Linked DNA regions of Homo sapiens. The protein of the gene in region 1 interacts with the protein of each later gene in a pairwise test. Each region holds a gene or a part of one and is shown on either strand. Other genes may lie near its edges.

What was found.
Region 2: the proteins of OLR1 (region 1) and HUNK interact in a two-hybrid assay, tested with the Homo sapiens proteins (one large-scale study listed by BioGRID and IntAct).

Annotation. Positions count from the first base shown.
Region 1 is NC_000012.12:10,159,686-10,162,181, reverse strand, and holds part of OLR1 (oxidized low-density lipoprotein receptor 1), read left to right. Parts: intron 1-1,256; coding exon 1,257-1,396; intron 1,397-1,666; coding exon of another isoform or gene 1,667-1,719; coding exon 1,720-1,835; intron 1,836-2,160; coding exon 2,161-2,302; 3' UTR 2,303-2,496. UniProt on the Homo sapiens protein: Receptor that mediates the recognition, internalization and degradation of oxidatively modified low density lipoprotein (oxLDL) by vascular endothelial cells.
Region 2 is NC_000021.9:31,879,383-31,883,212, reverse strand, and holds part of HUNK (hormonally up-regulated neu tumor-associated kinase), read right to left. Parts: intron 1-3,830.

The DNA.
Region 1 (2,496 bases):
ATGGTGATGATAGTGATGATTTGAGGGTTCCTGAAAGCATCCATAAACATGTAGACATTGGTATATTTTGCCTATTGTCTAAGTCCTGTTTTTGGTTTGGTGGACTCCCTGTGAATTTTGCTACTGAAAATCTCCTTATTTTCTAAAATCTCGTTTAAATTGAGATCCTCGCTTTATATTAATATACTATTTTCCCTAGAACAACTCTGTACAAAAGAAATATAGTATGTGTTTTTTATATATATATATATATATATCATTAAAATTTCTAGTAACCACATAAAAATGAAAAAGAAGCAGATAAAATTAATTTTAGAAACACATTTTATTTAACCCAAGATATTTGAAATATTATTTCAATACTAATCAGTATAAAAATTTTTAATGGACTATTTTACATTCTTTTTCTTTTTCAAATTAAGTTTTCAAAATCTTTTGTGTGTTTTACACTTATAGTACATCTTAATGCAAACTAGCCGGGTGTGGTGGGTCATGCCTGTAACTCCAGCACTTTGGGAGGCTGAGGCAGGAGGATTGCTTGAGGCCAGGAGTTCAAGACCAGCCTGGACAACATAGCGAGACCCTGTTTCAATTAAAATAATTTGTTTTAAGAAATGCAAACTAGCTATATTTCTAGTACTCAAGAATCACATATGGCTACTGTATTAGACAACACATGTCTGAAAGCAAGACACATAGTATTTAAGCCTAGATTCATTATTCAAAGATATGAAATTTTAAAATGCATAGCATTACTTTTTAAAAATAGCAGAATGGCTATTAAATATCTGTTCTCCCAACCCTCACTTTCTTTATTTCCAACACAACTTTAAAAAATAGATCAGTTTCTAAAATTACATGCTAGCTTAACTTGCTTTTCATCAGGGGAAGTGAAAATGCTAAATGAGAAGTACATTTAGGTTGCTAAAATCAGTATGCTTTCTTTCTTTCTTTTTTTTCCCAAAAAATGAAGAAATAAGGACTCTGAGGCTATTTAGGTATTTGCAGAACCTGGGTAAAATTTTACTTAAGAAGTAGTGTGGGCAGGGCGCGGTGTCTCACGACTATAGTCCCACTACTTTGGGAGGCTTGGCCTACATGGTGAAACCCCATCTCTACTAAAAATACAAAAACAAAAACAAAAACAAAAATAAATAGTATGCACGTGAGAGAACTAAGGGGATCATTGATTTAAGAACTGCAGTACTGCTTTTACACAAACATAACTGACTGATGAGATATACTATCCTTCCCAGCTCCTTGTCCGCAAGACTGGATCTGGCATGGAGAAAACTGTTACCTATTTTCCTCGGGCTCATTTAACTGGGAAAAGAGCCAAGAGAAGTGCTTGTCTTTGGATGCCAAGTTGCTGAAAATTAATAGCACAGCTGATCTGGTGAGTGTTCATGGATATTTGTTGGGGTGGAGTATTGGTTGATAGGGAAATTAATCTGGTTTAAACTGTCACTGGAGGAATTCTTGTTTGAGAGCCAAAATGTCTGTTTTTTTAGCTTAGTCTGATCACCAATTTTGTGTATGACCTTGGACGGACAGGCTCTGTAGTATCTCTAGCCTTCAGTAAGTGTTTCCGTAAAACAGTCAAGGGGATGTCAAAGATACCTTTTGGTTCTTTAGTTTTGTGGATCCAACACTAACTGACTTTCAGATTCTAAAACCACCATGTGGATTCCACAAACTCAGAAACATTACTCCCCACAGGACTTCATCCAGCAAGCAATTTCCTATTCCAGTTTTCCATTCTGGATGGGGCTGTCTCGGAGGAACCCCAGCTACCCATGGCTCTGGGAGGACGGTTCTCCTTTGATGCCCCACTTGTAAGTTTCCCATTCTTTTTGATGCCTCTCTCGTCAGTTTCCTATTCTTTGCTGAACCTGCTAGTGAGGTCACTGCCTGCATCCCACCAATGTCCTCTTCTTGCCAGAGAGAAGCTTGGGGGAATTTCTCAAAGTCTCCTTCCTTACCTCTTTCACAAAAAGATTTACTCATTAACCATTCAGACATTTTCTTGAGTTTTCCTTCCCACATTTATTACTGATTGGAGGCTTTAAGACAAAAAGTTTCAAAAGCTAAGTTTCTGAAACAAGGTGGCAGTAAACCTAAGTTTTTTTGTTGGTTTGTTTTGTTTTTTCCTACCTGCAGATTTAGAGTCCGAGGCGCTGTCTCCCAGACATACCCTTCAGGTACCTGTGCATATATACAACGAGGAGCTGTTTATGCGGAAAACTGCATTTTAGCTGCCTTCAGTATATGTCAGAAGAAGGCAAACCTAAGAGCACAGTGAATTTGAAGGCTCTGGAAGAAAAGAAAAAAGTCTTTGAGTTTTATTCTGGAATTTAAGCTATTCTTTGTCACTTGGGTGCCAAACATGAGAGCCCAGAAAACTGTCATTTAGCTGGCTGCAGAACTCCTTTGCAGAAACTGGGGTTCCAGGAGCCTGGCACCTTTATGTCAACATTTTTGATTCTAGCTACCTGT
Region 2 (3,830 bases), on another chromosome or scaffold:
CAATGTGATTATAAATTGCCAACCTCTATGGCAGGCAATTTGGCAATACTTATCAACAGTTAAAATAGACATACCTTTTGGCCTAAGACTAGGAATTTACCCCTCAGATACACTGAGGGGTCACATTTACAAAGTGACAAATGGTCATGGATATTTACTGAAGTATGGTTTGAGAATAACAAAAAAAAAAAAATTATGTACTCCCTAAATGTCCATCAACAAGGGATGGTTAAGTCAACATGATACTTCCACACAATGACTACTATGCAATAACTAATTAACATAAAGAGTGAGGCAATTCTGTAGTAGTCATGGGGAAGAATGCTCAAGACATATTGCTAAGTGAAAAAGCAAGATAATGAACAGCATGTACAGTTTAAAAATACATCTGCCCTGGTGGGTGGGAGGGATGGATGAAGAGAAGCTGGTTCATGGGTACAAACATACATAGATAGAAGAACTAAATTCTAATGTCTGTTAGGGTGACTATACTTAGTAGCAATACTTTGTATATTTCAAGGTAACTAGAACAGAGGACTTGATATAATACCAACCCGTGGAAATGAATACTTAGGTGATGGACACGCCGATACTCTGGCTTGATCATTACACACTCCATGCATGGAACACTCACATGTACCCCATAAATATGTAAAATATTATGTATCAATAAAGAAGAAAAATCTGCCCCTAACTACGCATTTACAAATATGTATGTGGGTCTCTATGCATATAGGGTATCTCTGGAGGGATACACAAGGACTAGAAGGAGGAGTGACCTCTCACGAGAAGATCCAGGAACTGAAGAGCCCAGATAAGAAGCAGTTACCTCTCACTGCAAACCCTCTCAGAACCTTTGAATTTCAGACCATGTGTCTGTATTACCAATTCCAAAACTTAACCAAATGCATCTTGAAAACACAAAGATGATTAAAAACCAAAAAGAACCCAGTGATTAGAAGTTGCATAGCTAGGGCACAGTGGCCACCGTAAGAGTGCTAAGAGGATGTTAACAGATGGCTCTACCCTGAGTAGTTTTTTTTGTCCATGAGAATGTCCCAAACTGTTACTCTACTCATCAAAAATCCAAATTCCCACAACTCCTTCAACAACTTTTCCCACCACTCACGAGTGATGGGGGAGGGGGGGTCTCTTCCCAGGAAAGTGCCACCGTCTCTGAAGTAGGCATGCTGGCCCACAACTTGGCCCAACACTCAGTTGCCCCAGAGTTCTCAGGAAAAAACCCATAGAGCATACATATAAAGTGAGCTTTCAATCTTGTAAGTACTGAGAAACACAACAGAGCCCTGATGATTCTAACCTAAGAGAAATGTGAGGCCAGAAAATCCCCCAGCGTGTGGCACATAGAATCTGCTAATGAGATGCCACGCCGGCTGCTCCCTCATTGCAGGGAGAGAGACCACAGTCGAGCAGCAAGGTAGGGCAGGCTGAAGAGAAGCTGGTTCATGGGTACAAACATACATAGATAGAAGGACTAAATGCTAATGTTTGCTACGGGGACTATATTTAGCAGCAATAATTTGTATATTTCTTTGTTGTTGTTGTTGTTGTTGTTGCTGCTGCTGTTGTTATGGAGTTTTTGCTCTTGTTACCCAGGCTGGAGTGCAGTGGCACAATCTCGGCTCACTGCAACCTCCACCTCCTTGGTTCAAGCGACTCTCCTGCCTCAGCCTCCCGAGTAGCTGGGATTACAGGAACACACACTTGGCTAATTTTTTTGTATTTTTAGTAGAGACAGGGTTTCACCATGTTGGCCAGGCTGGTCTCAAACTCCTGACCTCAGGTGATCTGCCTCCCTCGGCCTCCCAAAGTGCTGGGATTACACGCGTGAGCCACCACGCCTGGCCATACTTTGTATATTTCAAGGTAACGAGATGAGAGGACTTGATACCAACACATGGAAATGATGACCACTCATATCCAAAATGCGCATGGAAAAGATGCCCACGTTGTCTACGGTCCATATGGTATGGACTCAGATGAAAAGCCCTGGACTCTGACCCTGTCTCTTTCAGTAAACAGCAAATGCTGGGCTGCACCCCCAGATTCCCCGTCAGTGCTGAAGAACTGACTGCCTCAGCTGCAGGCTATCAGCTGTGAGCTCTCCCCAGGAACCGCCCTCAGCAACTGTCCCGTACGAGGCCATGCCCCTTGCCTGGGCAGCCCCCATCAAGGACTGGCCGATGCGGAAATATAAATCCCAGTCCTCTCAACCCAAGTTGGTCAGCTCTGAAGGGCCAGCTCAGCTCCAGCACTCACCACGGCATGGGCAGGGGCTTTGGCTGAGAGCGGTATTGGAGCCCAGCTTCTCCCTCTGCCCAGTGCTGCTTTGCCCCTTCCCTTGCAGAGGTCAGTTCTGAGAGTAATCCCTAAAAGCACATTCATCTCCTTCCCAAGATCCGCTTGCCACAACCCAATACTGACAGTCTAAAAAGGTGCTGGAGCTTGAACTATGCTCCCCCAAAAGATACCTTCAAGTCCCGTTGGTACCTGTGGATATGATCTTCTTTGAAAATAGGGACTTTGTAGATGTCATCGAGTTAAAATGAGGCAACACTGGATTAGGGTAGACCTACATCCCATGACTGGTGTCCTTATAAAGAGACATAGGAAAAGATTAAGAGACAGAAGAGACACTCAGAGGGAGGAACACTGTGTGAAGACAGACGCAGAGACAGAGCGCTGCAGTCATAAGCCAGAAAATGCCAAAGAGTGCTGGCCACCACCGGAAGCTAGTAAGAGGCAAGGAAGGATTCTCCCTGTGGCTGCAGAGGGAGCATGGCCCTGCCAACACCTTGGTTTTGGATCCTAGCCTCCAGAACTGTGACAGAATAAATTTCTGTTGTTGAAGCCACACAGTGTGTGGTAATTTGTTAGAACCATCCTAGCAAACTCATAGAGAATGTCAGAGAGAAGATCTACTCAGGGCACCCTTCTACGTAATCAAGGCAGGCAAGAACACCAGCAAGCTGGCTGTTACCCCCTCCACCAGGGCTGCTGCAGGCATCTAACAAGAATGTGCACGGGAGGGGCACCCTGAAAAAAACCGTAAAACACTGTAGCACTGGGCTGGTGCTGGTGATGGAGGAGAGGGAACAGCTGTCTCGAATTCACAGAGGCATCCCCCTCCTCGGGGACTATTCAGTCCCTGTGTTTCTAGCTCTTTCCTGCTGGTCATCGTACCACCCAGTGGCACCTCCTATCAGAAAGCGTGAAATTCAATTCAGGTCAGTACTTAGACCAGGGCTGAGTAGAGAAAGAAGTTTCACCCATCAGCTAACATAAGGCCTGGGGATTATCTACGGGTTTCAATTAGCCAAGAGAGCAGGTCTCTCCGTTACCATAAATAATCGACAGAGGGAATATATGTCCCAAGGCAAATGATAACCCTGTGCCCAAGCCTCCTTCCCATGGAGAACACCCCAACCTGTCCCTCTCTTCGGGGGCACATGGCTGCCACTCCCCACCCCTTCTGGGCAGATAAACCCTGGGACAGATGATTGCCGCGCTGACCTCCAATAGCTGGCAGCATGCAGAATTCTATAGTCTCACAGACCTGAGTCGGATTGGTATGCACGGGTAGCTATAGCCGTGACTCAACACCTGCAGAGAAAATGTAGGGTTGTACTCCTCTCCGTGGGCACCGTTTCTGCACTGTTGCGCTGACTCAAAGCACCCTTTGAAGTCCGTGGGACCTGTATCAATGAACACTAGGAACCAGGCCCTACGTGCCAATTTCCATCATTCACAAGTACTTCAAAAAGATGAGGCAGGGCAGGAAGTTCAAAAGAATCCGCCTGCAACTGCAG